Homo sapiens: one gene and its partners. The protein of the gene in region 5 purifies or fractionates together with the protein of the main gene of each other region. This does not show direct contact. Each region holds a gene or a part of one and is shown on either strand. Other genes may lie near its edges. The genes, in order: DCUN1D5, ATP1A3, LRRC41, KDM8, COX4I2, MTHFR and TRPC4AP.

Evidence for each region.
Region 1: the proteins of COX4I2 (region 5) and DCUN1D5 purify together in Homo sapiens (affinity purification with mass spectrometry; one large-scale study listed by BioGRID and IntAct). This does not show direct contact.
Region 2: the proteins of COX4I2 (region 5) and ATP1A3 purify together in Homo sapiens (affinity purification with mass spectrometry; one large-scale study listed by BioGRID and IntAct). This does not show direct contact.
Region 3: the proteins of COX4I2 (region 5) and LRRC41 purify together in Homo sapiens (affinity purification with mass spectrometry; one large-scale study listed by BioGRID and IntAct). This does not show direct contact.
Region 4: the proteins of COX4I2 (region 5) and KDM8 purify together in Homo sapiens (affinity purification with mass spectrometry; one large-scale study listed by BioGRID and IntAct). This does not show direct contact.
Region 6: the proteins of COX4I2 (region 5) and MTHFR purify together in Homo sapiens (affinity purification with mass spectrometry; one large-scale study listed by BioGRID and IntAct). This does not show direct contact.
Region 7: the proteins of COX4I2 (region 5) and TRPC4AP purify together in Homo sapiens (affinity purification with mass spectrometry; one large-scale study listed by BioGRID and IntAct). This does not show direct contact.

What each region holds. Positions count from the first base shown.
Region 1 is NC_000011.10:103,089,361-103,093,358, reverse strand, and holds the start of DCUN1D5 (DCN1-like protein 5), read left to right. Parts: upstream 1-1,198; 5' UTR 1,199-1,486; coding exon 1,487-1,572; exon of another isoform or gene 1,573-1,675; intron 1,676-3,998. UniProt on the Homo sapiens protein: Contributes to the neddylation of all cullins by transferring NEDD8 from N-terminally acetylated NEDD8-conjugating E2s enzyme to different cullin C-terminal domain-RBX complexes which is necessary for the activation of cullin-RING E3 ubiquitin ligases (CRLs).
Region 2 is NC_000019.10:41,984,231-41,987,730, reverse strand, and holds part of ATP1A3 (sodium/potassium-transporting ATPase subunit alpha-3), read left to right. Parts: intron 1-1,501; coding exon 1,502-1,615; intron 1,616-1,732; coding exon 1,733-1,867; intron 1,868-2,307; coding exon 2,308-2,425; intron 2,426-2,544; coding exon 2,545-2,813; intron 2,814-3,500. UniProt on the Homo sapiens protein: This is the catalytic component of the active enzyme, which catalyzes the hydrolysis of ATP coupled with the exchange of sodium and potassium ions across the plasma membrane.
Region 3 is NC_000001.11:46,297,117-46,300,616, reverse strand, and holds part of LRRC41 (leucine-rich repeat-containing protein 41), read left to right. Parts: intron 1-2,246; coding exon 2,247-2,333; intron 2,334-2,983; coding exon 2,984-3,054; intron 3,055-3,500. UniProt on the Homo sapiens protein: Probable substrate recognition component of an ECS (Elongin BC-CUL2/5-SOCS-box protein) E3 ubiquitin ligase complex which mediates the ubiquitination and subsequent proteasomal degradation of target proteins.
Region 4 is NC_000016.10:27,217,026-27,220,525, forward strand, and holds part of KDM8 (bifunctional peptidase and arginyl-hydroxylase JMJD5), read left to right. Parts: intron 1-1,935; coding exon 1,936-2,085; intron 2,086-3,367; coding exon 3,368-3,460; intron 3,461-3,500. UniProt on the Homo sapiens protein: Bifunctional enzyme that acts both as an endopeptidase and 2-oxoglutarate-dependent monooxygenase.
Region 5 is NC_000020.11:31,636,685-31,640,711, forward strand, and holds the start of COX4I2 (cytochrome c oxidase subunit 4 isoform 2, mitochondrial), read left to right. Parts: upstream 1-1,227; 5' UTR 1,228-1,278; intron 1,279-2,333; coding exon 2,334-2,415; intron 2,416-2,424; exon of another isoform or gene 2,425-2,499; coding exon of another isoform or gene 2,500-2,596; intron 2,597-3,248; coding exon 3,249-3,413; intron 3,414-4,027. UniProt on the Homo sapiens protein: Component of the cytochrome c oxidase, the last enzyme in the mitochondrial electron transport chain which drives oxidative phosphorylation.
Region 6 is NC_000001.11:11,799,465-11,802,964, reverse strand, and holds part of MTHFR (methylenetetrahydrofolate reductase (NADPH)), read left to right. Parts: coding exon 1-84; intron 85-1,548; exon of another isoform or gene 1,549-1,565; coding exon 1,566-1,804; intron 1,805-2,642; coding exon 2,643-2,753; intron 2,754-3,500. UniProt on the Homo sapiens protein: Catalyzes the conversion of 5,10-methylenetetrahydrofolate to 5-methyltetrahydrofolate, a cosubstrate for homocysteine remethylation to methionine. Represents a key regulatory connection between the folate and methionine cycles.
Region 7 is NC_000020.11:35,090,008-35,094,069, reverse strand, and holds the start of TRPC4AP (short transient receptor potential channel 4-associated protein), read left to right. Parts: upstream 1-1,262; 5' UTR 1,263-1,288; coding exon 1,289-1,456; intron 1,457-4,062. UniProt on the Homo sapiens protein: Substrate-recognition component of a DCX (DDB1-CUL4-X-box) E3 ubiquitin-protein ligase complex required for cell cycle control.

The DNA of each region.
Region 1 (3,998 bases), on a different chromosome or scaffold from region 5:
TTAGAGACTTTATCTGATTCTGTTTTGATTTTGGCCTCAGGCATTTTTAAATGGGTTGAAGGATCATATACTTTGACATTCTTTTGGTTTTAAGTAACAGAGAATTGAACTAAATATGCAAAATAGTGAAATTTGTTGCTTCACATAAGTGAAAATTCCAGGGCATATCATGGATTTTGGGCTCATATCATATAATCACATCCTGGTTTTTCTATTTTTCTGCTTGATACTAGTCTCTTCTGAGTTTTGGCTTCATTCTCCATACCTTCTCTGGTTCAAATCCATAGGAAATAAAATTGCTTTCTGGTGGTTCAATTTTGTGTCATTGGCACTCATTGGCCTGGCCTGAGTATGTGTCCATCCTGAACCAATTAATAACACTAAGGAAATATGATATTCGGATTGACCAGATTAGGGTGCCATTGTGAGGGTAGTTTCACAGGAACCACTTCAACTATTACTCAAAGACTTTTAGTCTTCTCCCATCACAGTTGGTTTGCAGAGATTATTTTACCAACAGAATTACTAACGACTTTCTACTATGTCTTTACATACAATAACCATTATTTAAAAACAGTATTTCCACCTAAGTGGAGATGAATAGATTACAGTGTGTTTTGGGTCTAGGGGGAGGTTCCTTAGAACTGTCCCCCAAATTTCTCTCTACTGAGTCGCAGTCACCTACTGTCTCTTATCGGAGAGGTGAGCTCTGTGGAAATAATGGCAGAGCTAAGTTTCAATACAGGACAAAGTGATATGCAAAGGTAGGGAGAAGGGGGAGTGGGTGGCTGATCACAGGCCCATAAAAAAAACACGCAAGACACAGGGTGACAATGCATTTACGGGGTGGGAACACTTCAGGTGAGGTTATCGTGTGGAAGAGCTCAGAAGTGGAACTTGGTCTACTTTACCAGGTTGTTTTTAACGTCAACTGCAAAGTATTAGTAGTTTCACTTTTTGGCGGTGACTGCCAGCATCAGAGCGCGGTAGAAGCTTCATGAGAAAGGTCAGGATACCCTGGACAGGATACAAGAATTCCGCGGACTGCCGCAGTCGACGGGTCAGACAGCTTCGCTCTGCCTGGCCTACCTACGAGTGGCAGAGGCTAACCGGAACCACGCCCCTTCCCGGGACCGGCTCCGCGATTGCGTCACTTCCGGGCCTCAGCGATTCGCCTCCGGGTTAGGCTGAGCCTCTTGCTTGCTGTGACTGGTGGAGCTGCCGCGCTGTCCGCGTTATCTCCTCCCGGTGAGAACGAACCGCAGTGTCCACCGGCGAGGAGCCAGCCCTGTCCCGGTCAGAGAAAGACGACGAGGATACCTGGGAGCGGGCGGCGGCCGGGCTGGGCCGCGCCGGTGCGGGCTGGCGACTCTGCTCCTCCGCTTGCTGCTGTCTCTGGGAACTGGGTGCCAGCGCTGAGGGGCTTCCAGCGGACAGGGACCCCCTTCCCCGGCTCCCCTGCCCACCCTGCCGGGGAGGGCGGAAGATGCCGGTGAAGAAGAAGAGAAAATCCCCTGGGGTGGCAGCAGCAGTAGCGGAAGACGGAGGCCTCAAAAAGTGTAAAATCTCCAGGTACCATCTCCCCCCACCCTTCAAGCTTCCCTCCTCCCTCCTTTGCTGGACAACTGGAGGAAAAGGAGTCGGGCCCGGCCTGCCGGGCTGGGGCTGGAGACAGGTGAGGCCCCTTTGATCGAGCTAGGCTGTAGGTGCCGAACACCGCGAGTCTCCGCGCCCGACCCGACCTCGTGTTCGAGTGTGTGCACGCTGGCGTTTATGGAGAGACTAGAAGAGCCGCCCACGTTAAGAGTCTACGTGCCCTGCAGGGTGGGGAACAGATGCATATGTAAATTGCGCTTCCCCCCACCCCCACCCCCACCCCACAACCGACCCTCGATCCCCTACTCCCGTATCGCTCCTCTGCCTTTTTCTAGACTTAGAAGTGAGTACATATCCGCAGAAGGGTCACTTCTAGAATTTCTTTGTAGAGTGTGAAGAAAGCAGAACATAAGGAATCTTGACAACTGTCTTGGGAATGGTAGAAAGGAAAACTTGTATGCTATAATTGGCCTCCATATTTAGTATTTGGAGTGGCCTAACCCGGAAGGTCCCAGCAGGAGGCCTTTTAAATTGCAGGAGCCCCATTTTCTGGAAGTATAGTGCCTCACCTATGCCAAGTCCCTGTGTGCAGAGTTGGAAAGGCCCTGCATGCTTTTTGTCTTCTAGCATTCAGGACGCTGTTAGCTCTCAGCATAAATTAAATAATTTGTGAGCTCTTGTACTCTGTCCTACTGGTAAGAAAGAAGACAAGGCAGAACTATATAGTAGTAGCTCTTTGATCCCCTTGTAGCATATCATGGAGGCATCACAGCAAAATTTATGCTACAAAAAAACTGCAATTTTGGTTTGAGAAATGGTTTTTTTGTTTTTTTGTTTTGTTTTGTTTTTCTGAGACGGAGTCTTCCACTGTTGTCCAGGCTGGAGTGCAGTGGCGCGATCTCCGCTTACTGCAACCTCCGCCTCCCGGGTTCAAGCGATTCTCCTGCCTCAGCCTCCTGAGTAGCTGGGATTATAGGCGCCCGCCACCACGCCCTGCTAATTTTTTGTATTTTTAGTAGAGACGGGGTTTCACTATGTTGACTAGGCTGGTCTTGAACTCCTGACCTCGCGATCCGCCCGCCTCGGCCTCCCAAAGTGCTGGGATTACAGGAGTGAGCCACCTCGCCCGACTGAGAAATGCTTTTTTAAAAAATAACCATATTAGCTGCCTTTTCATCAATGGTTGGCACTTGATATGACAACTTCAGATGCTACTATTGAAAGGAGACTGTAGCCAGGATTATAAGAAGGAAATAATGATAGAGCTCTCCTTAAAGAGAGATCTGCTTAAACTGTGAGGTAGATGACTTACATAGTCTGCATCTTCTTTTTTGTAATTGGTCGACTTTTTTCCCTCATTACTGTGTTTTGGTAAAGGAGTCTATGGAGTATTAGGCTATTAATGTGAACGATGATACATACACCTCTTGTTTGTCAACATTAGAATTTGACATGGTTACTTTAGTAGCTCACATTTTTATAAGATACAGGCAAATTATTATTCATTTTTGTACTATATCATGGCCATCTTAAGTATATAATGTATTAAAATTATTTAAGTTAAGTACATTAAGATAGCTGAGCAGGCAGTATTATTAGAACTCAGGTGATACTTTGCTCTATCAATTTAAATTTTTAAATATGATACTCTTACTTTACTCAGTTACAGAAGTTCTATCATTTCTATATCATTGTGGTAGGGTAATTATTTGAGTTCCTTGAAAAAAGTTTCTCTGAAGGCCATTAAATTCTAGAGGCCATTTTGAACTTACCAAATTTTAGTTATTTTATGAAAAACAATGAAAATGATTTTATGAAAAAAATGAAATAGAATGAACAGAACCTAGGATTAAATAGCCTTGTCCCAATTATTTGGACTATTATTAACTTTTAGTGTTTTTTTGTTGTTTTTTTTAAATCTGTGTAATTTAATATACCCTTAGGTCCTAAGTCATCATTTATCTTTAAAAATCTATTTAAGCTTAGGTGATAAAACAACTCTTAATATAACATTTTATTTTGAAATATTGATTCATTAAGTATCAAAATATACTTTGTAAGAGTTTGTTTTCAAATATTTATCTATTACACACAAATAGAATTTCTATGCAAATCAATAGAATCATAATAAATATTTATACTTTCCCACCTACTAGGTTGAACTTCTTTGTAGTCTTTTAAAATGTGCGGAAATAACTTACTGATATTTTTGGATTTTGATACTGAGTGAAAAGGTATTTGGGTTTTGTTAGCCGATAATTCTTATGTATAGACTACTGTTTCAAGTTGCAATTACTTAACAACTTCAGTTTTTTTCCAACAATGCCAACCGAAGAAAAAAAAAACCTTTGTTTAATGTGAATGGAAGTTGTTAATTTTGAACTTAGTTTTTCTCTAAGAGT
Region 2 (3,500 bases), on a different chromosome or scaffold from region 5:
CAGCAGGATGTGTGAGCCGGGGCTCTGTCCCAAGGCTGTGTGACCTCAGCGGCCTTGAGAACAGACACCAGCAGGTGGTCATGGCTTGACAGATACCCAGAGTGAGTGTCACATAGAGACCCAGGCACACCCCGCTGCTGATACATCAGGGCCCATCCCCATAACACAGGGACACATTCGAGATGCAGCCTCAGATCCCATGCGCATAACACAGACCACACACCAGCCACACAGAGCTGCTCACCTGGGTAGGCGTGTGTGCACACACACGCATGTGCACGGAGGGTCAACGCAGATGCCACACCAGGATGTGGTTTCAAACATGGCCACCTAATTCAGAAACACAGACACAGACTCAGATATACACTGACAGAGAAACTCACACACACACTGACACGCACACACACACACAGCAATGCAGGCATAACCTGGTGACAGAGAGACATGAGAGTCAGGCACAGAGAGTGTCCTCAGATGTTCAAATCTAAACAGTCTTAGACATAAGCTCTCACAGAGAGGCAGAGCTGGAGACACAGAGACAGAGATCCACACACAGAGAACCAAAGAAGCTGCCTTGTAGAATGTAAAGTCAGGCATGCAGCCAGTCAGACAGACACATGGACAGACAGCCGCATCCCAGACTCAACATGTGCAGGAGGACAGACACACACACAAAACAGATGGACAAGTCGGGCATGGTGGCTCACGCCTGTCATCCCAGCACCTTGGGAGGCCAAGGCAGGAGGGTAACTTGAGACCAGGAGTTCCAGTAGCCTGAGTAACATACCCAGACAGACCCAGCCTCTAAAAAAACACAAAACATAGCCGGGCCTGGTGGCGCACACCTGTAGTCCTAGCTACTCCGGAGGCTGAGGAGGGAGGATTGCTTGAATCTGGGAGGTTGAGGCTACAGTGAACTGAGATTGTGCCACTGTACTCCATCCTAGGCAGCAGAGCGAGACCCTGTCTCAAAAAAAAAAAAAAAAAAAAATGCCAGGAAAGATGGCTCACACCTGTAATCCCAGCACTTTGGGAGGCCAAGGTGATAGATCACAAGGTCAGGAGATCAAGACCATCCTAGCCAACATGGTGAAGCCCCATCTCTACTAAAAATACACAAAATTAGCCAGGTGTGGTGGCATGCACCTGTAGTCCCAGCTACTCAGGAGGCTGAGGCAGGAGGATCGCTTGAACCAGGAGGCGGAGATTGCAGTGAGCCAAGATCATGCCATTGCACTCCAGCCTGGGCGACAGAGTGAGACTCTGTCTCAAAAAAAAAATCGACAGACCCTTAGATTCAAACACAACCATTACAGAAAGAGGGACTCAAGCACAAACAGGGGAGACTCAGACACACCAACCCTCATAACCAACCTAGGGTCAGACACACAAATACAGACCCCCACTGACACAAAGCTCCCTTCCCAGACTCCAGGCGAGCAGGGACTGGTGGAGAGTGGCTTGGGCGGCCCCTGATCAACATCCCCACATCTCCCCACAGCTGTACCTGGGCATCGTGCTGGCGGCCGTGGTGATCATCACTGGCTGCTTCTCCTACTACCAGGAGGCCAAGAGCTCCAAGATCATGGAGTCCTTCAAGAACATGGTGCCCCAGGTGAAGGGTGCCCAGCAAGGGGCCAGACGGGGGTGTTAGTGTATGGGCTGGGGGCCGGGCCCAGTGACCCCCAGGCAGAGGGAGTCTGGGAGGTGACATTACTCCATCCCACCTCAGCAAGCCCTGGTGATCCGGGAAGGTGAGAAGATGCAGGTGAACGCTGAGGAGGTGGTGGTCGGGGACCTGGTGGAGATCAAGGGTGGAGACCGAGTGCCAGCTGACCTGCGGATCATCTCAGCCCACGGCTGCAAGGTGGGCCTGGGCCTAGGGCCCGGCTTTACCCTCCCTCGGGCTGCCCAGGAGCTCAGGCCCAGCCCCTCCTCCCTCACACTCAGGAGTCCAGGTCCCAACCCCTCCTCCCTCAGACCCAGGAGTCCAGGCCCCCAGGCCCTCCTCCCTCAGACCCAGGAGTTTAGGCCCTGGGCCACCTCCTCACCCAACAGTCAGGAGTCCAGGCCCAGCCCTCACCTTTCGGAGATCCTTAGGGACCCTAGACCTTGGCCAGCAGCACTGTGCCTTCCCCACCTTCAAGATCCCAGCCTCTGGCCTCCCACACACCACTCACCCACTGGGCACCCAGGCTTCTAGCTGTGATCTCCAGGCACACAGGCTTCAGCCCCAAGCCCTGTACACAAATACCCTCCTGTCCCAGGCCCTGGACTGAACCCTCTCTCTGCTGCACCTACCCCCAGGTGGACAACTCCTCCCTGACTGGCGAATCCGAGCCCCAGACTCGCTCTCCCGACTGCACTCACGACAACCCCTTGGAGACTCGGAACATCACCTTCTTTTCCACCAACTGTGTGGAAGGTGAGGCGGGTGCAGAGAAGACACACAGCTGGGGCAGACACAGGGATGTGTCCCAGGGGGTCAGGCCTCCAGAACCTCCCTGAGCCACCCCACCTCAGCCTAACCCCTCTGGCCTGCAGGCACGGCTCGGGGCGTGGTGGTGGCCACGGGCGACCGCACTGTCATGGGCCGTATCGCCACCCTGGCATCAGGGCTGGAGGTGGGCAAGACGCCCATCGCCATCGAGATTGAGCACTTCATCCAGCTCATCACCGGCGTGGCTGTCTTCCTGGGTGTCTCCTTCTTCATCCTCTCCCTCATTCTCGGATACACCTGGCTTGAGGCTGTCATCTTCCTCATCGGCATCATCGTGGCCAATGTCCCAGAGGGTCTGCTGGCCACTGTCACTGTAAGGCCAGGCTCCTGGGTCTGGGTGGGGAGGGCCTGGGGGTCTGGGCTCCTGGGTCTGAGGGAGGAGGGGCTGGGATCCTGGACCCCTGAGTCTGAGGGAGGAGGGGCTAGAGGCCTGGACCCGTGTGTCTGGGGGAGGAGGGGCTGGGATCTGGACCCCTGGGTCCGGAGAAGGGGCTGGGGGCCTGGATCACAGTATTCTTGTGAAAGACAACTTGGGCCTGACTCAGAGGGCCTCATTAACAAAGCAAACAATCAAAGAAAGAAACAAACAAAAATCTTGAGAAACACTGGCAAGCCGTAAAGAGCCAACAATCCTATTGCAAAATTAAGAAGTGCACGCTCATGATGAAAAGTTGAAGAGTACATCAAGTTAAAAAATAAAATAATGAGGCTGGGTGCACTGGCTCACGCTGTAATCCCAGCACTTTGGGGGGCCAAGGCGGGCAGATCAGCTGAGGTCAGGAGTTCAAGACTAGCCTGGCCAACATGGTGAAACCCTGTCTCTACTGAAAATACAAAATTAGTGGGGCGTGGTGGCACATGCCTGTAATCCCAGCTACTCAGGAGGCTGAGGCAGGAGAATCGCTTGAACCTGGGAGGCGGAGGTTGCAGTGAGCCAAGATCACGCCATTGCACTCCAGCCTGGGTGACAAGAGTGAAACTCCATCTCAAAAATAAATAA
Region 3 (3,500 bases), on a different chromosome or scaffold from region 5:
ATCACCAAGAGCAGGATGAAGAGGGACTGGATGGAGACTGAAGTGAAGGAGAGCAGTTAGGCTGTTGTAATAGACCAGATGAAAGGTGATGTGGACTACATTCGTGTAAAAGCATAGGGAATTAACACTTTCATTCAGCCCGTACATCGAGGACCTACTATGTACAAATAATTATACTAGATTCTTGGATGTCAAGATTCAGTTATTCTGTAAGTAAAGATAAAAAGAGACCCTGGAGCGGAAGTTTTGGTATACTCCAAGATCTTAGACTTGTTCTTTTTCTTTGAGATGGGGTCTCACTCTGTCACCCAGGCTGCAGTGCAGTGGCATGATATCAGCTCACTGCCACCTCTGTCTTCTGGGCTCAAGCAATTCTCCCATCTCAGCCTCTCGAGTAGCTGGGACCACAGGCGTGCCCCACAACACCCAGCTAATTTTTTTTTGTATTTTTGGTAGAGATGGGGTTTTGCCATGTTGCCCAGGCTAGTCTCAAACTCCTGGACTTAAGCAATGCCCCCTACCTCTGACCTCCAAAGATTACAGGAATTACAGGTGTGAGTTTGACTTGTTCTTGATTGGACAGAGATGCCATTGACAGGATAAAAATAACCACCAACATTTAGCGAGCTTATTATGGCTGGGCATTGTTTTAAACAGATTATAAGCATGATCTTCACAACAATGTCATGAGTTAATTACTGTTATCTCCATTTTATTTTATTTTATTTTATTTTATTTGTGAGACAGAGTCTTGCTCTGTCGCCCAGGCTGAAGTGCAGTGGCGCCATCTCGGCTCACTGCAGTCTCTACCTCCTGAGTTCAAGTGATTCTTGTGCCTCAGCCTCCCAAGTAGCTGGGATTACAGGCGTGCATCATTACACCTGGCTAATTTTTGTATTTTTAGTAGAGATGGGGTTTCACCATGTTGGTCAGGCTGGTCTCAAACTCCTGACCTCAAGTGATCTGCCCGCCTTGGCCTCCCAAAGTGCTGGTATTACAGGTGTGAACCATTGCATCCCACCTATTTTTTATTTTTTGAGGCAGGGTCTTGCTCTGTCATCCAGGCTGGAGTGCAGTGGTCTAAGCACAGCTCACTTCAGCCTCAACCTCCTGGGCTCCAGCCATCCTCCCACCTTAGCCTCCCAAGTAGCTGTGACCACAGGTGCACACCATCACACTCTGCTAATTTTTGTTTTGTTTTGAGATAGGGTTCTCACTGTGTCACCTGGGCTCAAGTACAGTGGTGTGATCATAGCTCACTGTAGCCTCGAACTCCTGGGCTTAAGCGATCCTCTTAGCCTCCCAAAGTGCTGGGATTACAGGTGTGAACCACTGTGCCCAGCCTCCATTTTTTTCCAGTTGAAGAAACTAAGGCTTAAAGAGGCTTAAATAATTTGTCCAAGGATTCACATTTAACTAAGTAGTTAGGATTGCACTCAGATTTGTCCTACTCTAGAGGCCAAACCCTTTAGACACTATACTATAACAGCTCTTAGAACTAGAGAAGTTGGCAAGAGCAGGTTTTGTTTTTAAGATATATTGACTTTAGAGACACGAATTGTTTCTATTCTTCATAGGAAAGTACTAGTTCAGAATATAGCAGTAGCCCAAAGGATGGTAGTGGTTAATCTGGAAAAATGGAAAAGGAATTCAGGAAAGACTTAATAAAGGGCATGTGATACTTGAAAGATGAGTAGTTGATATACTGAAAGTGGCAACGACATTCCTATTAGAACAGCATGACAAAGGACATTCCTATTGGAAAGAACAGCATGACAAAGGTACAGGGGCAGAAAGCGGCATAATATGTTAGGTAAATGAAAAAGTAGTTAAGTGTGGCTGAAATGTAGGAGGCAAAGCAGGGAGCTGATACTAGCAGGGCAGATTATGAAAGACCTTTTATCACACATATTCAGTAGGTCCTTTTCAATGCCAAATGGTTCATTTTGCTTGGGCAGAAGTGAACTGACCAGCTCCTAAATAAGCATGTCAAGCTCATTTAGCATGTCAGCTTGTTTTGTGGGATGATCTCACCCTTGCCCCTGAAATTCCAGCTTCCAACTGAGTGGCTGAAGATAAGTGGACTAGAGTTTGGAACAGATCTAGATTAGCTTCTAGAGGTTCCATTTGTCAAATGAGAAGTCTACCCTTCCATTTTCCTTTCCAGTAGAATAAATAATGCTTGGAAACCTCTTGGGTGGGAGGGGGAGGGGAGGAAAAGTAAACTTTTGTTTTGATTTTTGTAGCCCTCCCAGGCCCAATACTTCAAAGCATCCTACCTCTGCTCAATATATATTACTTGGAGAGGATTGAGGAAACTGCCCTCAAGAAAGGTGAGTATCTTTCTGTCTCTTTCTCAGTCAATGATTATGAGCAAGGCACCATAATGTTCTTCCGGTAAATATTACCCCTGATACCTGCTAGAACTTCGTGCTTTTCAAAAAGTACCTTCACACCTATTTTTCTTCCTCATTCCTCAGTGTCCTATGAAACACAAAGCCAAGTATATGATCTTTATTATACTGATAAAAGTGAGACACAGGCACACCACAATTAATAGCAAAGCCAGAACAACAACCCATATCTTGTGAATCTTAGTTTCTCTATTTTACCAAGCTTCCTCCCCTCATTAGACACATCTGTTAACAGGTAACATTTAACCCTAATGTGTCAAGCATTGTCCTAGGCACTTTACCCACAGAAACTCATTTACCCTAATCCTTTCAACAACCCTATGAAATAGCTGTTATTAACATTTTACAGATGAGGAGACTGAACCACAGAGAAATTAAGTAACTTGCGCAAAGTCACATAGCTGGAGTGTAGTTTGCTGATATTCACACCCAGGCAATCTGTCTTTAGAGCCAGTGCCCTTAATCACTCTGCCATATTGCTCCTGTGAACCCAGAAGACAACATGAAAGGTTGATGTACTTTACTCATGGTGGCCAGTAAGCAGCCAAGTGTGATATTTCTCCTTACAGGCCTCTCAACTCAGGCCATCTGGCGCCGACTCTGGGATGAACTGATGAAGACAAGGCCTTCCAGTTTGGAAGTAAGTTAAGGTATCAGGTAGAATGCTAGCCTGATTTTGCATGGTAAAAGCAGGAATAGCACACAAACACAAGCTGGGTACTGATAAAGTGCAGAGGCAATGATGGAATGGATTTGGGAGGAGGGCTCTGATGGCTTGTCACAAGGTTTTGGTCCATTTGGCATTTGTCACTGAATTGCTTGCTCACTGTATTTGCAGGGGACACAAAACAGGGAAAGTTAGTGATCACAATGGATGGCAGAGCCAGGATTCCTAGAGTTCTTGATGGTGTTGGTGCAGTGGTCAAATCTAACAAAATGAAATTTAATAGAATACACCAATACTTCAATGAGTTTTAAAAGTTCCAATTGCATGGTATCGGGATGAGGGATAAAGGAGTATGATTAGTAACAGCTTGTATAAAAAAGATTAAGGGAGTTTAGTCAACAATGTGTTGAAGCCACTTA
Region 4 (3,500 bases), on a different chromosome or scaffold from region 5:
GACTTGAAAGATGTTTCGGGTAATGGAGGGCCGCCTGGGTGTTTACCTTGGGTCCCAGAGCTGAGTGTCTACCATGCTGTGGAGAGGACCCTGGAGAAGTCCCAGCAGCCCATGCCCAGGTGTTATCATGCCGTGTGGCAAGGACAGTGTTCTAGAACCTTCTCTACCTACAGGACGCTCAGGGACTCCTACCAAATTCTTGTCCCAGAACCTCTTATTGACTTTTCTCCCAGGGACCCCGTGTTCTAGAAGATTTTGGCCATCAGTTTAAGCCTGCCTCAGTTATTAGTCACATCTCGGGAGCACTGATTCCCTTCGGGTCTCTGCATCCTCGGCCAGTGATTCTGATGACATGATCTGGTCAGCCAATCACCTTTCAGAAATCCTGATGATGTCATCAGGGACCAATCATAGTTTCTGCTCAGATTCCACAGGGCCAGTTCTGGTCAAAAGCAGCAGCGTCGGGTTACCTTTGGGAGGAACCCCTCACAGCCCTGGGAGGGACCTCAGCTTGCGAACTTGTACTTCAGTCCTAAGCAGCAGGCGCGGCTGCGTTTCTGCACAGCTGATTTGAGACAGGTTCTTAAAGGTCTGAATAGCAGTGTCTGGGACCAAGCTCCCTGCAGGGAGAACATTCCAGCTTTTCCTGGTACACACTGGTTTCTGAGCCAGCAGCCTGAAGTTACCGTCACTGCTCCCGAAGGAATGGTAGTGTCCACCTGCAGGTGCCTTCAGGCTGCGGAGCAGTGACTCTTAAAAAGCCCTGTGTCCCTCTGGCAACCCTGTTTTCATGCCTCTCAAGCTTGAAAAATGCCGCCAGGTCCATCCAGGGTCCCGTGAAGAACCCTGGGGTTCTCGGTGGCCTGGGGGGTGTGGGCTGGTGGCCTGCTCTGGTGGGTTCAACCCCGGAGGTAACTGAGGTGCCTGCTAAGGGTCTGGACAGGAAGTGGACTTAGAGTGAGTGTGTTTTCACTCTGAGACCCTGGCTTTGTGTAAAGGAGGCCAGGGCCATGTGCAGTGGCTCATACCTGTAGTCCCAGCACTTTGGGAGACCAAGCAGGACCAGCCTGGACAACATAGCAAGACCCCATCTCTACAAAAATAAAATTAGCCAGGCACGGTGGCATGCTCCTGTGGTCCCAGCAATTTGGGAGGCTGAGGCAGGAGGATCGCTTAAGCTCTGCAGGTTGAGGCTACAGTGAGCCATGATGGTACCACTGCACTCCGGACTGGGTGACAGAACAAGACTGTCTTTGAAAAAAAAAATTACAATAAATAAATAAAGGAGGCCAGGCCACTGCGGCCCTGCCCCACCGTGAACATCCAAGATCGCTTGATGTGTGGCATATAACTCTGTCAGAGGCCATGGGGAGCCGCGCCACCCTTACTGCATCATATAAAGCTCAGAGCACAGACCCAGGCCCACACCTGCCTTTCTCGTCAGGCAGTTTCTCTTCTCTGCCCAGCCTGTTTCTGCCAGGTATGGCAACAAATCCTCTGTGCCTACCCTGGCTTTTAAAACTAGGACGGCAAGGGCCGGGTGCGGTGGCTCACGCCTGTAATCCCAGTACTTTGGGAGGCCGAGGCGGGTGGATCAATTAAGTCTAGGATTTTGAGAGCAGCCTATGCAACATGGCGAAACCCTGTCTCTACAAAAACAAAAATTAAAAAAAAATTAGCCGGGTGTGGTGCATGCTTGTAGTCCCAGCTAGTAAGGAGGCTGAGGTGGGGGGATCACTTGAGCCCAGGAGGCAGAGGCTGCAGTGAGCTGAGATCACGCCACTGCACTCCAGCCTGAGAAACAGAGCCAGACCCTGTCTCAAACACACACACACATAATGGATATAGGTATGTGTTTCTGACTCTTCGTTGGCCTCCGGGCTGCGGTGTCCCCAGCCGGATCCCCACATCTCATGTCTGCTCTGCCGCCCACAGATCCCGGAGTTGAAGCAGGACATCAGCATCCCCGACTACTGCAGCCTGGGCGATGGGGAGGAGGAGGAAATCACCATCAATGCCTGGTTTGGTCCCCAGGGAACCATCTCCCCACTACATCAGGATCCCCAGCAAAACTTCCTAGTGCAGGTTGGAGCTGCAGCTGGAATAGTGGCCTTCTAACTCCTCCTGGCCCAGACACCTGGCCGGCCACATTCTCTGCCTTTAAACACCGGGCTCTTAAAAAGAAACAAGAAGCACTGAAGGGGATGAGGACAAAAATATAAAGCAAACCCACAAACGGCCCCAGGCCCAGGAAGGCCTCTGCAGTCGGTGCTTCCAGAAGCGGCTCCTCCTGCATGTGCTCCTCCCAAGATCCCTCACAGGGGAGCCCTCGGGAGAGGGAGCGAGTGCTGGTGTGGGTGCCCGGTGCCTCTGCCCCTCCCCGCCTGCTACCCATGCGATCCAGACCAGCTTCCAAATAGGAGGTGGCAGGTTGGGGGAGGAGTTTTCTCAGTCACTGGGAGGTTTTTTTCCTGAGGCCCAGTCAGAGGAGCAGATGGATTTGCTGCAAGGGGAGGCACCTCTGTCTACTGCTGTAAGACCACCCTGGTTTTCGCAGGCAAAGAGAGGTTTAGTAAAGGAGAACGTTCTCCTACCCCAGCAGACCAGTCCAGAGAGGCAGCCCAGGAGTGGGCTAAGAGCTGGGCTTCGGGAGCCAGCGTGCCTGGCGCAGACAGCAGCCCTGCCACACCTCAGCTGTGTGAGCTTGGGCAGCTCATTTAATCTCTCTGTGCTTCAGTTTCCTCACCTGCAAAATGAGAGTGAAGATAAACCACCTCAGAGAGGATTAAACCAGTTAACACACATAAAGCACTTAAGCAGTGCCTGGCACAGACAAGCGCCTAATAATTGTGGGCTCCAAAAATGAAGTTATTTTTCAAAATGTATTTGGAAGAAAAACATACCTTAGGCCAAGTTTGGTAGTTCACACCTATAATCCCAGCACTTTGGGAGACCGAGTCAGGAGGATCACTTGAGGCCAGGAGTTCAAGACCAGCCTGGGCAACATATTAAAACCTAATCTCTACCAAAAATAAAAATACAAAAATCAGCTGGGTGTGGTGGGGCATACCTGTAGTCCCAACTACTGGGGAGGCTGGGGCAGGAGGATCTCTGGAGGCCAGGAGGTCGAGACTGCAGTGAGCCATGATCGTACCACTGCACTCCAGCCTGGATGACCGAGTGAGACCCTGTCTCTAAAAAATAAAAAAGAAAGAAAAACATACACGTGGAACCATAAGCATGTGTGTGGTGGGGAAGGGCAGGCTGGGCCCAGGGAGCAGCATGTGGAAGGGCACAGAGGCCAGAGTGGGCTTGGGGCAGCAGTGGAGTGAGGCCACCAGCTGACTGTCAGGGTCTCTCTCCCCAGGTGATGGGGAGGAAGTACATCCGGCTGTATTCCCCGCAGGAGTCAGGGGCTCTGTACCCTCATGACACGCACCTTCTCCATAACACGAGCCAGGTGGGCACTGGGGGTCTGGGGTGACGTTGCAGGTTCTCCC
Region 5 (4,027 bases):
GTCACTAGGCTCGAGTGCAGTGGCATGATCTTGGCTCACCGCAACCTCTGCCTTGCGGGTTCAAGCCATTCTCCTGCCTCAGCCTCCTGAGTAGCTGGGACCACAGGCGCCTGCCACCATGCCTGGCTAATTTTGTTTGCATTTTTAGTAGAGACGGGGTTTCGCTGTGTTAGCCAGGATGGTCTCCATCTCCTGACCTCATGATCTGCCCCCCTTGGCCTCCCAAAGTGCTGGGAATTTTTTTTTTCTTTTTCTTTTTCTTTTTTTCTGAGACAGAGTCTTGTTCTGTTGCCCAGGCTGGAGTGCAGTGGCCCGATCTCGGCTCACTGCAACAGCCGCTTCCCAGGTTCAAGTGATTCTCCTGCCTCAGCCCTCTGTGAAGCTGGGACTATAGGTGCGCGCCACCACGCCCTGCTAACTTTTTTTTTTTTTTTTTTTTTTTTTGAGATGGAGTCTAGCTCTGCTGCCCAGGCTAGAGTGCAGTAGCCGGATCTCGACTCACCGCAACCTCCGCCTCCCGGGTTCAAGCGATTCTCCTGCCTCAGCCTCCTGAGTAGCTGGGATTACAGGTGCGTGCCACCACGCCCAGCTAATTTTTGTATTCTTAGTAAAGATGGGGTTTCACCATGTTGGCTAAGCTGTCTCAAACTCCTGACCTCGTGATTTGCCTGCCTTGGCCTCCCAAAGCGCTGAGATTACAGGCATGAGCCACCGCGCCCGCCCAATTTTTCTATTTTTAATAGAGAAGGTGTTTCGCCATGCTGGGCAGGCTGGTCTCAAACTCCTGACCTCAGGTGATCCTCCCGCCTCGGCCTCCCAAAGTGCTAGGATTACAGGCGTGAGCCACTGCTGGCCTAAAAGATGCTTCTGGAGTAGGAGGCATTGGGCCTGGCTGGAAGGTTTGCGTCTGCAAAGGCCTGAAGAGAACATCCCAGGTGGGAGAAACAGCAAGGAGGGGAGGTGTGGAGGAGGCAGGGAGACCCTGTTCTTGGGACTACTGTCTGCAGAGGGTCTCCAGAGGCAGGACCCCGGTAGGGACACTGATGCAGGAGGCGCTCTGCAGTGCCTCCCCCCAATCTGTGGGCCGGGGTGCCCCCAGGGACGCAGGCTGTGCGCTCCCACGCCCTGCCGAAGCAGGACGTTCCCACGCTGGGGCGGCCCCGAGAAAGGCTGTGGGGCGGGCCGGGGGCGGGCGCCCGCACTCAGGTCCCTCCGCAGCGGGTTCTCAGTTGCTCGCTGGGCAGACCCAGGTCGCGCTCCCACTGCCGAGCCCGCGAGGTGAGTGAGTTGGGGGAGGACCCCGCCACCCAAGCCCGCGCGGGTCAGGGGCGCGGCTCGGTCTCCTGCCTTCGCCGCTGGGTCACGCCCCAGTGGTCCCTGTCTTAGAGGGTTGGGGGGCTTCTTGTAGGTTAGAGTTGAAGACTCCTGGGGAGTCTGCATATGTGTGCCATCTCTTTCCCCAAATATAGATTACATCCTCCCTCTCTTGATATGTGGAGCTCTCCCACCCACTAATCATAATCACTGGCCGGAGCCCCTCTTTTCCAGAAGTGTGGGCCGCCCCCTCCCACTTATCACCTGTAGTGTGCCCCCTCCCTCACTCTATTTGTTGGGTGCCCCTCTCTCTCCCTAGATGTGGGACTCCCCTTCTTTTCCCCAGATGTGTGTCTCCCTCCCTCTGACCCAGTTAAGTCCCCATCCTCTAAAGCCCCTCCCCACCACCATGGATGCCAAACCCTGAGTCTTCCCTGGGGGTGGGAGACTGGGCTCAGCCAGACTGGCTAAGCCCAGTCCCCACCCCAACCAGATCCAGCAGAGCAGGCCTGTGTGCACGTAGGCAGCCAATTAGGGGGGAAGGGGTGGGGGCCAGACCGTCTGTCTGTTCTGCCGGTGCAGGGGCCTCTGGCCCCTGCAGGGAAGAGAGACTCAAGAACTGCTCCCTCTCCACCTGGACCCCACCCAGCTTCCTCTGGGGAGCAAACAAGTGAGCGGGGTTCTCCAATCTGGCCAGACTGAGCTGGGGCTGGCACCAGAACCCAAGCCCTCAGCCTCAAACTCTTCAGACCCTGGCCCAAGACTTAGGCCTCCTCCCACTTCTCAGATGGTGAATTGAGGTCCCAAAAAGGGGCTTCAAAGGTCTAGGACCCCCATTGGCCCCCCGCTGGGGATATCAGACAAAATTAGAAGGGTCAAGGGCATGAGGGTGACCTTGAAACACTGGGACACCCCTACCACTACCATACCAGTGGAAAAGGATTTTTCCATCTGGCCCTGCGGTTTGGGGGCAGAGGGTGATGTGGGGGCAGAACTCATCTATACCTTCACGCCCCCAGATGCTCCCCAGAGCTGCCTGGAGCTTGGTGCTGAGGAAAGGTGGAGGTGGAAGACGAGGGATGCACAGCTCAGAAGGCACCAGTGAGACCTGGACTCCTTCCTCCCTGCCTAACTCCAGAGATAGGGGCAGGGGTCCCCTCTGCAGGCTGCCCCCTTTGCCCTTCCATGCCACCCTGGGCCTGTTCCTACCACACTTCCCATGTTCCCATGATCCCACTCCTTGGTCCAAGGTCAAGTTTCTCCAGGAAATGGAGTGCGCGGGGTGAGCAGACAGTGGTCATCTCCATTCCAAGCTTCCTTAGGAGCCAGCCCCCAAGCCTCAGGCCCCTAGACCTTTTGTTCTGAGGTGGAGGATGCTGACAGAACCTTGGACCCTGATTCCTCCTTTCCAGACCCTAGTTTCAATGCTAGTAAGAAGAAAGAGACCTAAAGTAGGAGAGACTTCAGCCAGATAGCAGAAGGGCCTTGCTGACCCATGGAGAATAACAAAGATAACATTTATTGAGCCCTTACTAGTACCCCAAGCTATTATAAACCTCCTTTTTTTTTTTTTTTGAGATAGAGTCTTGCTCTGTCGCTCAGGCTAGAGTGTTCAGTGGCGCAATGTCGGCTCACTGCAACCTCCGCCTCCTGGGTTCAAACAATTCTCCTGACTCAGCCTCCCGAGTAGCTGGGATTATAGGTGCCCACCACTGCGCCCGGCTAATTTTTGTATTTTTAGTAGAGGAGAGGTTTTACTGTCTTGGCCAGGCTGGTCTCGAACTCCTGACCTCGTGATCCACCCGCCTCAGCCTCCCAAAATGCTAGGATTACAGGCATGAGCCACCAAGCCCGGCCACCTTCTTTATTAATATAGTTAGAGATAGGGTGTCCCAAGGGCAGCCTGGACTCAGCTCCCTCCATTGTGTCTGCAGCCCGTGGTGGGGGGAAGATGTCCCCCTACACCAACTGCTATGCCCAGCGCTACTACCCCATGCCAGAAGAGCCCTTCTGCACAGAACTCAACGCTGAGGAGCAGGCCCTGAAGGAGAAGGAGAAGGGAAGCTGGACCCAGCTGACCCACGCCGAAAAGGTGGCCTGTAAGTGTCAGGGTGGGGCTGGCTGGAGAGAGTGGGTTGGGGGCTGACTTTGGAAAGAATGGCCTGTCAGGGATCAGAGGGCAGAGAGAGGCCCCCAAGACAGCCAGAAACCTCCAAACACCTGAGGGGTGAAGTTCATGCCTTTGTTCGTTTCTTTATTCACTCACCTGTTTGTGCATAGCCTGATGCTAGGCAATGCTGGGGACATGAGGTGAATCACCTGGATAGTTCCTGCCCCCATGGTGCCCCCGGTCCCGTGGGGAAAACCAATACAGACTCCAATAATTGTAATACAGAACATGTGGCTAGGGTGAGGTGTGTTCAAGGACTGTGAGATGAAATCTTGGTGGACCTCCCAGAGGAGGGCACATTCCAGCTGGCCTTTAAGGGTGAAGAGGAGGGCACTGCCAGGGAGTGGGAACTGCATGGGGAAGGGTGTCAGAGCAGGAGACTGTGGAGGGCCCTGGAATTGAGTGATGTGGGGGAGATGGGACAGAGAGAGGCAGGTGAGGCGGTTGGGGAGGAGCCCTCTGACCCTGGGAGGCTGGAGGGATGTGTGGTCCCTTGTCATGTCCACCAGAGCATCCCTGAGCTGACCCTTTGAAATTTGGAGC
Region 6 (3,500 bases), on a different chromosome or scaffold from region 5:
GCGATTGGAATCTGGTGACAAGTGGTTCTCCCTGGAATTCTTCCCTCCTCGAACTGCTGAGGGAGCTGTCAATCTCATCTCAAGGTAAACTCATGCAAGGTTAAGGTGGGAGGCGGGAGTGGTGGTGCCTGGGGAGCAAACTGTCAGCCCTGAGGCTGGGCTGCCCTTTAACCCGGCAGAAAAAAGCAGCCGGAGGGGGCAGGAAGGAGAAGGCAGAGTGGGTCATCTGATCTGCAACTTCTCTGTTGCCTGTAAAAGTCCCTCCACAGTGTCAAGGTATTTTAGACACACTCTTCAATGGGTTAAAAATGTTGATTCTCACACTGTATTCTTTGAGGGAACTTGGGGGCTGGATCACGAGTGCAGTTTAGGAAGTCACAAAGCAGTGAGATTGTTTTCAGCAAGTTAGAAATTTGGATTATGCTTCTTGAACTCTAGAAATGCCAACTGAATTACATTAGCACTTCATGAATTGCAGTTTTTTTTTTAAGTTTATGCCTTTTACTGTATGCACGTCTCACGTGTCACTCCCAAGTTTTTGAAGTTTAAATGCACAAGGATGTTTAAATACACCGTTGATAGCTTGTAACACAAGTACTCGTGCACATCCAGGCTTTTTTTTGAGTCTCGTTTCGGAACTTGGCCTTGGTCTGCATAACTGTAAGCTGCTGCACAGGGCTTGGGGGGTGGCATGAAAGAAAGTGAGTCTGCTGACCCTCTTTCTAACTGTTCCTACAGCGAGGCTGTGCTTGCCACAGTTAGGATTCCCCTAACTCTCAATCATGATGTCTTAACTCACCTGAGATAATAAACAGGCAAGCGCTGTGAAAAGTCTGAAGTGCTGCTCTCACACAAAATGATAGCGCTGTTGTTGTGTCTTACCTCTGTAATAGTGATTATAACGGCACCTCACATATACTGAGTATTCGGTTTGTACACCAGGCACTGTTCTAAGTTCTGTGGAACCAGCTGCCGTCATATTCTCCTAGTGTTATGGTTTTTTGTTGTTGTTGTTGCTTTTTTTTTTTTTTTTTTTTTTTTGAGACAGAGTCTCATTCTGTGGCCCAGGCTGGAGTGCAGTGGTGTGATCTTGGCTCATTGCAACCTCTGCCTCCTGGCTCAAGCAATTCTCCTGCCTCAGCCTCTCAAGTAGCTGGGATTACAGGTGCCCACCACCACACCCAGCTAATTTTTGTATTTTTAGTAGAGATGAGGTTTCACTATGTTGGCCAGGCGGTCTGGAACTCCTGACCTCAAGTGATCCACTCACTTCAGCCTCCTGAAGTGCTGGGATTACAGGCGTGAGCCACCACGCCCAGCATCCTAGTGTTATTATGAAGTGGGTACTACTATCTGCCGTGTCTTATAAATAAGGAAACAGAACTCACAGAGATTAAGTAATGTACCCAAGATCACACAGCTATAAGTAGCAAAGCCAGGATATGAACGCTGATTGGTCTGTCTCCAACCTTCATTGATGCTTCTCTAACTCCCGGGCCCCATGGGAAGGCAGTGACGGATGGTATTTCTCCTGGAACCTCTCTTCAGAAACAAACCCCCTACAGGTTTGACCGGATGGCAGCAGGTGGCCCCCTCTACATAGACGTGACCTGGCACCCAGCAGGTGACCCTGGCTCAGACAAGGAGACCTCCTCCATGATGATCGCCAGCACCGCCGTGAACTACTGTGGCCTGGAGACCATCCTGCACATGACCTGCTGCCGTCAGCGCCTGGAGGAGATCACGGGCCATCTGCACAAAGCTAAGCAGCTGGGCCTGAAGAACATCATGGCGCTGCGGGGAGGTGTGGAGCCAGCACTCCCCTACACTCTGGGTTCTGGCTTTCCCGGAGGCCACTTGGTAGCCTGAACTTGGTTCCTGAAATGGTCCTTTACTTCTTCCTGGGCCCCACGCTGAGGATCCGCAGGATCCCATCCCCGCCAGTAGTGTCAGTAGGCATTGTGGGTAGTGAGTCATCCTGGGCACCACACACAGGCAGCCACCTCTTCCACCTCTTGACCTCGACATAGGAGTTCCGTCAGGAATGCAGTCGCGGCCTGATAACCCTCTGCCTTGCCTACACCACTGCATCGATTGCTGGCTGCACCCAGCACTTGGCCCAATCACAGAGTAACAGAGTATCCAGGAGTGAGAATAGCCGGTCAGGCCTCTGGTGCCCGCTGTTGTCAGGCCACCTAAGAGTGGGAAGAGGGAGCCTGATGGGTGGGATCCTATGGCCTCGTGCTCCCTACCACAAGACCCCTTCACTTGAGATGAGTAGAAAATTCTCCCAGGAGGCAGGAGCCCCAAGGCCGTGGGATGGGAGAGGGTGGCAGGCATGCCCAGGTAGAAGTAGGGAAGGGCTCTCCAATCCTCCAGGCACGGTGAGAAGCAGCGGTGGTCTCCTATTCTCCACCGCCAGCACAGGGTCAGCATGCAGTGAATATTGAACTGGTGGGCTGCTTTTTTCCCTCCTGCTGTCTTACCAAGTGCTAGAAAGAGACGAACCAAACCTAAATAATATGAAGTTTCTGCCTTCCAGGGACTCGCAGTCCTGGGTGTCGGGGCTAGGTAGAGGGAACAGAAAGGGTCTCTGGAGGTTGGGTGAGACCCAGTGACTATGACCTCCACCAACCCTGCAGACCCAATAGGTGACCAGTGGGAAGAGGAGGAGGGAGGCTTCAACTACGCAGTGGACCTGGTGAAGCACATCCGAAGTGAGTTTGGTGACTACTTTGACATCTGTGTGGCAGGTGAGTGGCTGGATCATCCTGGTGGCGGGGATGGAGCTAGGGAGGCTGAGATGCCCAGAGAGCCTGTCGGTGTTCGGTTCAGGACACAGTGATCAGGGGCACTCATGGGTCCATGCTGGATGAAGGACATGCAGAGGTGAACTGCACCATGTCCTTGCTCCTTTTGTATCACCCACTCCCCTCCTGGGCCTGCCACCATCGACCCCTAGCTTTTTGTTCCTCTGCCTGGCTGTGCCCTTAGCCTGCTTGGCCTTATTCTTTTCTTTAAAACGAAAGAGGGGTCTGGGCGCGGTGGCTCACACCTGTAACCCCAACACTTTGGGAGGCCGAGGCAGGCAGATCACCTGAGGTCAGGAGTTTGAGACCTGCCTGGCCAACATAGCGAAACCCCGTCTCTACTAAAAATACAAAAATTAGCCAGGTGTGGTGGTGCACGGCTGTAGTCCCAGCTACTCAGGAGGCTGAGCCAGGAGAATCTCTTGGACCCAAGAGGCGGAGGTTGCAGTGAGCCGAGATGGTGCCGCTGCAGTCCAGCCTCAGTGGCAGAGCAAGACTCCATCTCAAAAAAAAAAAAAAAACAACACCCCACAAAAGAGGGATATTTACTAACAGGATTCCAGAGGGCAGGGAACCCAAGATCAGGAGATGGCCTCAGACCTCACAAGGCACTGGAAGAGGTCAAAAAGCAAGGCCCTCCCTCATTCCCTCTGGGGCCACAGGGTCCCCCATCTCCGCTTCCCACTGCAC
Region 7 (4,062 bases), 3.5 Mb from region 5:
TTTTATACCAGTACCATGCTGTTTGGGTGACTATGGCCTTATTGTATAGATTGAAGTCAGGTAATGTGATGCCTCCAGATTTATTCTTTTTGCTTAGTCTTGCTTTGGACATGCAGGCTCTTTTTTGGTTCCATATGATTTTTAGGATTCTTTTTTCTAGTTCTATGAAGATGGATGGTGAGTCTACTCCTTTTAGATGGGGTGTGAGGATGGTAACCATAGTGCCAGTTCACCTGGGAGAGTCACTTTTATGCCTACCGTCCCGGTGTAATTATTTATTGTGTCTTTTCATTCTTTAAAGTGTTCTGGTTTGAGCAGTAAGTTACAGTCATCTTAGTTATGAGTCACAATCTTCACCATTCCCTGTTACATCACACTTAGCTCTCCTCTTTCATTTTTATTACAGGCCCCCTGCTAGGAAGGGAAAAAGTGTGTGTGTGTTGGGTGGGGGGAGTCAGTGCCATCCTGCCACAGAAGTTAGCTGAAAAAATGAGTATTAGAGACAACATGCTATCTGGTGGATAGAAATTAGGACAGGGTTTTCATCTGACAGAGAATATGATGTCACAATTTACTAATCCCTTTCCCTTCCATTATTTAATTTCACAACAACCTACCCAGTTACACAACTTATCCAGTTTGAGACTGCGTTTCTTTGTGTATGGATCTGCTGTCTTCCCCTGTAACCTGCATTTCGTGATAAAGGATCCCAGGCCGTTCTGCTCACCACTGTATCCCAGACACCCTCCCTTTCCCCTAGACATGGTTTGGTGTCGGGCGCAGAGAAAGCCCCAGGAACTACGATTGATCAGGCTCCCAGAATCTATAGATGGAGTGACCTGACGAGGACACAGGCGCAGTGGCAGAGCGCGATGACTTGGTCGATGTCCGCGGTGAGTCACGTGTAGAGAGAAGCAGGCAGGAAGCGGACTCGAGGGCCTGACTCCTGACCTGAAGCCCAGGATCATTTCTTGGCCAGCTGCCTGCATCCTGCCCAAATCGGCGAGAGAAATGGGAGAATGTGGACCTTGGGAGATTTCGCCGAAATGCTGGGCCCGGGGGCCAGAGAAACCGGCAGTGCAGGAAAGGCCACATCTCTTTTCCCACCTACCCCGCTGCCGCGCAGGACTACAATTCCCAGTAGCCTCCACGCCGCACACGGTCCCTGCCACGCGGCTTGCGCCTCCGCCGACGGCCCACTGGGGGCGCTGCGGCGACCCCTCCGCCGCCCCGTAGAAATCTCCGCGGCCCCGAGGCCGCTTGCTTCCTGTTTGTCCGACGAGGAGACATGGCGGCGGCGCCGGTAGCGGCTGGGTCTGGAGCCGGCCGAGGGAGACGGTCGGCAGCCACAGTGGCGGCTTGGGGCGGATGGGGCGGCCGGCCGCGGCCTGGTAACATTCTGCTGCAGCTGCGGCAGGGCCAGCTGACCGGCCGGGGCCTGGTCCGGGCGGTGCAGGTACGAGGCTGGACCAGGAGGGGCGGGGCGGGGCGGACCAGGCGGGAGCTGGCGGGGGGCCGGGGAAGAGGCCTTTCCAGGCCGCCGCTGGACGGGCCAAAGCCCTTTTGGCTGGCCGGAAGGCCTCCCTGTGAGCTGCCCGGACGCTCTCAGCTGCAGCGGGGCCGTGGGAAGCAGCTGGCTTGATGTCCCTTGTCAGGGGCCGAGCGGGGCTGGGCTGCTGTGGACACTGATGGCGTGTACGAACCCTGGGCCCAGTTTCTGGATCCTCCCTTCTTTGCGCCACGTCTACACGTCTGGGGGACCCTGTCGTGTTTGTTTTAGCCTCTGTGGGCCTCGAGTTTATCCCGTGTATTGGGCGTGGGGGAGGGGGTCATCATTGCAGCCCCCAAATGGTTCCCGAGCATTTCATAAATGTCATTTTCTCAGGCCTTTCCTTGACACTCTTTCCTTCCCCTTTCTAAAGTAGGTCCCCATTGTTATTCTGTCACAGCCGCGAATTCGTTTCGTTTACATTACTTTCTTAGTCTATAATTTCGTATTTCTTTGTTGTCTGCCTTTTTCTCGCCCGTCTCCCACATTAGGCTGAGTTCCAGCGGGTGCAGAGACTATATCTGGTTTGCTAGTGTAGAGCGTCACGGTTAAGAGGGACTCTGGAGTCAGGCCTGGGTTCAAAGCCCTGCTCCTCTCTCTTGCTTGGGCAGGTGACCTTTCTGTGCCTCAGTTTCCTCACTTGTAAGATGAAGATGAGAATTAGTAACCTACCTTTTAAGATTGTTGTGGAGATCAAAGGGGGCAATTGTGTAAAGCATTAGTGCATTTCTGGTGCATACTAAGGGCTGAAGGTAGTTAATATTAAGCATCTGACTTATAACAGGTGCCCAACATATGATTATTGTTATTTTTGAGTGAGCGAAGGACACTGCTTTAGGGTAAACCAGGTTGAATAGGACCTAGTCCACTACTTCTTCCACCCTCCCCCACCCCGAACCTTGCTAACACCTGTAAAACATTAGCTTTATTTAAAGACAGCTTTTTCATAAAAAGTTTGAAGGATACTCAAGAAACTGATAAAGTGGTTGGTGGGAGTGAGGTGGGAATTGGGCTAAAGGGGGAGAAAATGGGAGTGAGACTTTTCACAGTGTAACTTTATTTAAATTTAATTTGAATATCACTTCCTCAAATGACGAAAAGGATAGAATAAAATAAAGGCTAGGGGGTCTGTGTGTATGGAGGACTGTGGACGAAAGGAGCAGTTGTGAGTGAGAAATGTTTTCCTGGCCATCACACAACCATAGATGAGCAGCCTTTTTCCCCCTTGTGTTCTTAAGACCTGACTTAAGACCCTGTAATCCCAGCACTTTGGGAGGCCGAGGCAGGCAGATCGCTTGAATCCAGGAATTCGAGACCAGCCCAGGCAACACGGCAAAATCCTGTGTCTCCAAAAATTTAGCCGGGCATGGTGGTGGTGTGTGCCTGTGGGGAGGCTGAGGTGGGAGGATTACCTGAGCCTGGGAGGCGGAGATTGACAGAGTGAGACCCTGTCTCAAAAAAAAAAAAAAATCCTAGAAATACTTGCTCTTTCCTTCTTAAGCTAAGATACCTTACCGAGCTGGGTGTGTAGAGACAGGCAGAAAGAGGACTAACTTTTAGTGAGCACATAACCTTTAGAAAAAGTACGGTACAAGGCATATGTTATCTTTAATCCTCAAGCTTTTGAGTTATGCTTCAAGACTCATTTCTTAATATGGATGAGGAAACTGAGGCTCAGAGAGGTTAGATGATATGTTCCTAAACACCCATCCTGATAATCAGTGTTCTGAGAATAATAGGGAGCCACAGAAGTTCTTTAGCATGATAAATGAGGCAATTTAGGCAACTTAATTTGTTTCCAGTGCTGAATGACTTAGAATGGGAGGAGCCTAGAAAAGCCCACCAGAGGCTGGGCACAGTGGCTCATTCCTGTAATCCCAGTGCTTTGGGAGGTCGAGGCGGGTGGATCATCTGAGGTCAGGAGTTTGAGACCAGCCTGGCCAACATGGCGAAGCCCCGTCTCTACTAAAAATACAAAAATTAGCCGGGCGTGGTGGTAAGCACCTGTAATCCCAGCTACTCTGGAGGCTGAGGCAGGAGAATTGCTTGAACCTGGGAGGTGGAGGTTGTGAGCTGAGATCACGCCACTGCACTCCAGCCTGGGTGACATAGTGAGACTTCATCTCAAAAAAAAAAAAAAAAAGCTCACCAGATACAAGGCTGCTGGAATATTCTGGAGCCACAAAAGCAAGGCAGGTTATTGTGGTAACTGATGGTTGTATATAGGTGTGGGAGCTATTTCAGAAGTTGAAGTAGAGACCCCCTGCCTGGAGCTATAGTGAGGATAAAATGGGGACCTTCATCTTTCAAATATTTCTTTTCTTAGTTTTTTTTTTTTTTAATTTATTCCATGCTGTGCCCTTCCGCTCCTCTCTCCCATCCTGCAGAATAAGTTATTTGCTTACCCTTTTTTTTTTTTGAGACAGAATCTTGCTCTGTCACCCAGGCTGGAGTGCAGTGGCAAGCTCAACTTCCTGGGCTCAAGTGATCCTCCCACCTTAGCCTCCCTAGTA